Homo sapiens: one gene and its partner. The protein of the gene in region 1 purifies or fractionates together with the protein of each later gene. This does not show direct contact. Each region holds a gene or a part of one and is shown on either strand. Other genes may lie near its edges.

The links.
Region 2: the proteins of CCNY (region 1) and ACVR1 purify together in Homo sapiens (co-immunoprecipitation; one large-scale study listed by IntAct). This does not show direct contact.

Annotation. Positions count from the first base shown.
Region 1 is NC_000010.11:35,570,329-35,573,325, reverse strand, and holds the end of CCNY (cyclin-Y), read right to left. Parts: 3' UTR 659-2,997; downstream 1-658. UniProt on the Homo sapiens protein: Positive regulatory subunit of the cyclin-dependent kinases CDK14/PFTK1 and CDK16.
Region 2 is NC_000002.12:157,738,043-157,740,572, forward strand, and holds part of ACVR1 (activin receptor type-1 precursor), read right to left. Parts: intron 529-2,530; coding exon 398-528; intron 1-397. UniProt on the Homo sapiens protein: Bone morphogenetic protein (BMP) type I receptor that is involved in a wide variety of biological processes, including bone, heart, cartilage, nervous, and reproductive system development and regulation.

The DNA of each region.
Region 1 (2,997 bases):
CTGAGATTGCACCACCGCACTTCCAGCCTGGGCGACAGAGTGAGACTCCATCTCAAAAAAAAAAAAACAAGTAAATTAGGTGGGCATGGTGGCACAGGCCCATCGTCCCAGGGAGGCTGAGGCGGGAGGATCACTTGAGCCCAGGAGTTGGAGGCTACAGTGAGCTATGATTGTGCCACTGCACACCAGGCAGAGTGACAAAGTGAGACTCTGTTTAAAAATATATATATATTTAAAAATAAATATATATATAAAACCCAAGTTAAGTATCCTGTTCCTGTCTCAGTGCAAGAGCATGTTTCTTGTTTCCTTCTCTTTTTCAACAAGGGTAGGACCTCATCATGGCTGACTTTTCAGAAGATAATGTCTTTAAGACCCACCCAAGATGCTGACTCCAATGACATCAAGGGAGATAAAGTGGTTTCAGACAAAATGGGGTATCAATATGAAAGTGACATGTTCTATTAGGTCTCTATTGTGCAACTTCTCAATTGCTGGAGTAGCTCTCATACTTTTGTGAGTCGCTCAAGAACACAGGGCCAATACCACTTTCTACCACTGCTCTTGCAAAGAACTGGTTCACTCAGCATCCATAAAACCTGTTGAATTTTATCTCAATATACTAACTCAAAAAACACAGCAGGAAGGCAGGCACTACTTTGTTCTATGTATATATTTATTTAACATTTATTAAATACCTACAATAACCAAGAATCATGTTTTATTTTTAAAAAATTTCAAATCTGGGCCAGGGGCAGTGGCTCACGCCTGTAATCTCAGCACTTTGGGAGGCTGAGGGGGGTGGATCACTTGAGGTCAGGAGTTTGAGACCAGCCTGGCCAACGTGGTGAAACTCTGTCTCTACTAAAACTACAAAAATCAGCTGGGCATGGTGGTGGGTGCCTGTGATCCTAGCTACTCGGGAGGCTGAGGCAGAATTGCTTGAATCCGGGAAGTGGGGGTTGCAGTGAGCCCAGATCGCACCATTGCACACCAGCCTGGGTGACAAGAGCGAGACTCCATCTCAAAAAAAGAAAAAAAAAAATTCAAATCTGTAAAATATGGCCCCAGGTGAGAAGTTACCAAAAGCAGCAGGAAAAGTTTAAATCATTCACTCCCCAAATTTTGCTTTCAGCTTAGCTTAAAGGAAACCCCAGGATGGAGATGGCTCTGCCCAAGCCCGAGAGCAGGCAGACAGGAAAGCCAGCCCAGAAGAGGAGGCAGGTACAGGTGCCCACACCTCTGGCCTCACCTCATGCATGAAGGCACATCCCGATCTTGGCAGGATTTCTCATCTGCCCTCCAATTTGGTTTTAAACTCCTGACTTCTTCTTTCCCTTTTTCTAGTTAAAAAAAAAAAAATAAGAAAAGTAAAACAAATCAAAAAGATTCATCGGGATATATATTTATTGTCCCAATGACTTTATTTGTTGTTTAAATCAAATATAAAATTAAAGTAACAAATTGTGTCGTTTCCTTCATCCTTAATGACAAAAACTTTCCATTCAAAAACTACACTAAGACAATGTGTTCCTCAATAGTAATCCAGCTTTAATTGTAGAGCATTAATTCGCCTTACAAACAAATTACAGTCACTACGATTTATCAGTAAGTACTGTACTGGTTTTGTGTTTTCTTTTGGCAAACTTTGAACAAATCAGAGAAGAAAACATAACTATTCATCATCATGTAGAAAAAGAAAAGAAAATGAACCTCAAGTATCTACCTATGTGTCAAGTGATTCATCCTGCCAGTAAAACTAAAATCTACACTTACAGCGGAGTTTTAAACATCCTTAGTGCAAGAAACATAACCAATTAATACAGATCAACACTAATTAATGAATATGGAAAATTTTCCTATACAGAGGTAGAATCCAGGGCACAGGCTAAAACAGTATTCAGTAGTCTAAACAAGACTTGAGTCTGGTTTTATGGAATCCACTTTAAATTTTAGGTATCAGACTGTATGTACATACATACAATAAATAGACTATACAATTTTTTTAAAGTAGTTTAATAAACTCCACAAAATAATAGCAGATGCATTGAAATATTTACATAATTCGATTTTCAAATCTCTCATTCAAATAAAAGGGATAAAAATAAAATTTCTGCCTTTACGGCAGCAGAACCTCTTTCCTGAAATGGATTGGTAAAATAAGATACTTCACTGGAGAGGAACTAATTTATGTTTAAGAGGTATTCATATTCAGCTAAGAAAATACAACCCTTTTTCAGCTATATAGATTAGGGAATATAAAATGATATTTTCTACATTTTTTGACCTGTATTCAAAGTTCTAAATTCAACTTTGACTTGAAGAGAGAAGGTGATTTTGGTACCCATACAGAGTAGATCATCACAATTACAATGGAAAGATAATTAACGTTTTATATGCTGTTTATTTGCTTTTGAAAGTTTGGGTCAGAAAGGCTGTGATAATAATTCTGGCCCAAACAGGTATGCTTATACCTGACACAAATTTCACTAAAACCTAACACTTTTGGCTTGGAGTTCTTGGGATTTCGACTTTCTGAGTCCCTTCCATTTCCAAAGCATGTTTCATTGAGAGCAGGCAATGTTTGGGGATCAGGTGTATGATTCAAGACTAATTAAGATGCCAAAGTTTTCCAAGCTCACATGGGAAGAAGGTGAAACACAGACCTGCTGCTGCCACTGGCCTCCCAGAGACTTGAAAAGGGAAACAACTCAGAAACCTGTCACTGTGACCTAAGAAAATATGCAAAAACCCAAAGCATTACATATGCAAGTGACTCACACTCTTAGATTTCATATCAAATTCACTATTTGATATTCTATCATCAACTTTCATTTTACTTGATATAAAAGATTCTTATTGAGTCCATAAGGAAATCAGGGATCGTCAGAAAATGAAAAAGTATGGTCATAATTAATGAAGCATAAACCTTCACAGTTTGAATTTTGTAGAACTTCTCTAAGCACCCACAATGAAAATGCAAGTTGAGTTTTTTTT
Region 2 (2,530 bases), on another chromosome or scaffold:
AGGATCTTCAGCATCCAGCAGCTTGTGTTTGGGATTTCAGATATACAGAGATGGAAAGGAGGTTAAAAGCTTCACTTAAAGTCTCTTGGTTTATACATGCAGTCTTAGGGCTAATAGCAGTAGTCATGAGTCTCCCGATTCCTGAAGCTGCATATTCACAGAAATTCTTACAAATATTGTCATTCACTAGCAACCCCTATGAGATATGGCTTCTTCAAGAATGGAGTATTTTTCTGAACTTACTCTTCTAGATCTAAACCCTTCTATATAAAATAGGAAGAGAAAACAACAGATCCACGGGACAGATCACTCAGATGCAATACCAGTTGAAACTCAAAGGGAAACAAATAGCAAACAATGGAAAAGAGCTCTAAAACTGAGAAACTGGCATTCTTACCGGGTCTGAGAACCATCTGTTGGGTATGTTTGGCCTTTGTTGATCCACACAGACTACCTTCCTCATATCTTCAAAACTTGGGTCATTGGGAACCACATCGTAGAACGGTGGCTTGTAATCCTCCACTATACCTGCACACAAGGACAAGAATTGTGTTCGGTTAGCAAGAGAGTACAGGTTGCCCCAAGGTTTCATTGATGGGTGTCACAGGTTATAATGTGACAGAAGAAAATACTAATCACCTTCCTCATACCTCAGGGCAGTCCTGGAAGCTAGAGGTAGGTCCTAAAACAGGTGGGAGAAAAAGGCAATAAATACACACCCTGCATGGTATTGGAAGAAGGATAATTGTTAGAAGGAAATACGTGAAAACTTCTCATGTAATCATAACTATTAGCAAAATTCTCCAACAGTGTATATTAACAGCTCTGTAACGCCCAACAGGGCACTGGAGACATAGAACAAAAATTCCTTTGGTGATAAAAACCACCCAAGCTACCTATGGAAAGTACCTGAATCTAGTGGTTTCAAACCATAAATAGAAATAAAAAGTTGTCCACAAACTAGAGCTAGGGAGTAATAAACCAAGACCATCATCAAAATACCCCTTTCTTTGTTAGAAAAGTATTTTGTTAAGAAAAACATTGCTATAAATTAATCTCTTCCATTAGGAGGGATGCAAATAATATCATAGGAAATACTCATTTCCTCATTCATTCATTCTACATGTACTGAGTACCCTCTAACTACAGGCACAGCTGTCTGACTGATGGCTCTATTATTTACTATCATATTGAAGGCACAAAATAAAATGTAAAGAGGATAGCCATGTGGGAAGGCAGAGGAAAAGAAGGATAAATAATGAACTCTTCCTCTGCCCAAAAGCAAATATGAACAGTAGCTAATACCAGCTTCTGCCCCTGCATGATTTCCAATGGCCTGGAAACTTTTTCTTTTCCAGCAGAATTATATCAACTCCTTAAACAGAAAAATTTTTAACTTCATCATTTGGAATTAGAAAATGGATTCTTCCCCTTCATAGAAATAAAACCAAGACATCTATTATTTCCTTTCCCTCAACAAAGGGTTCAAACAATGAGGTAATAACTTGGTTTACTGCTCTCTTTTCTTCCTCCAGGCGACTTTCTTCTATTCCTAAATACCTAAGAAGTTGTTGGAGGCGACAGAAGGAGTGTGAGGAAAGTTGTAATTCGGTTGTTCTAGTTCCTACAAGCCACCTGAAAAGCTTCAATTCCCTTTTCATTTATCACAGAAATTACTCAACAGTGGGAATCCATCCTTACAAATTCCATACAAATACAAACCATTTATGCAAAAGATTAGATATAAGGAGCATCTTTTCAAGAAATGCTACATATCTTTTTAAAACTTCACAAATTTGGCTAAATAAAGGTTTATATTTGAGATGGAAACAAGTCTAAATTATATTTTTTAAAAATCTAGGCTGGGTGTGGTCGTTCACGCCTGTAATCTCAGCACTTTGGGAGGTCGTGGTGGGTGGACCACTTGAGGTCAGTGTTCGAGACAAGCCTGGGCAACATGGCAAGACCCTGTCTCTACTAAAAATACAAAAATTAGCCGGGTGTGTTGGCGCGTGCCTGTAGTTCCAGCTAACTCAGGAGGCTGAGGCACAAGATTTGCTTGAACCCGGGAGGTGGATGTTGCAATGAGCCAAGATCAGACCACTGCACTCCAGCCTGGGTGACAGAGTGAGATTCTGTCTCAAAAAAAAAAAAAAACTAGTTAATTCCAAATAACTTACCCACATTGTGTAACTGCATTTGAAATGCATATCAGTCAGTGGATTAAAACCTTTCCTGGCAAATCATAAACATCATATTGGGTATAAACTGCTACTCTCAGAAATCTTGGAACACCTCATCTTAGAGGCCCTTCTTCTCCTGTAAGGATCCCAGGAAACATTCAAACAAAAATCTTTTAATTATTTTCAGTACTAACAGACACCATCTAAAATACAGCTGAACATGGACCTAGAGAGATATTTTATGCGTTTTCTAGGGTCACAAGAATTTACAGAAAACAGTAAGACACGTGCCCTTCACCATCTCTCAATTTTTCTGAAAGAGAATATATTTAATAGCCTGGCTTAAT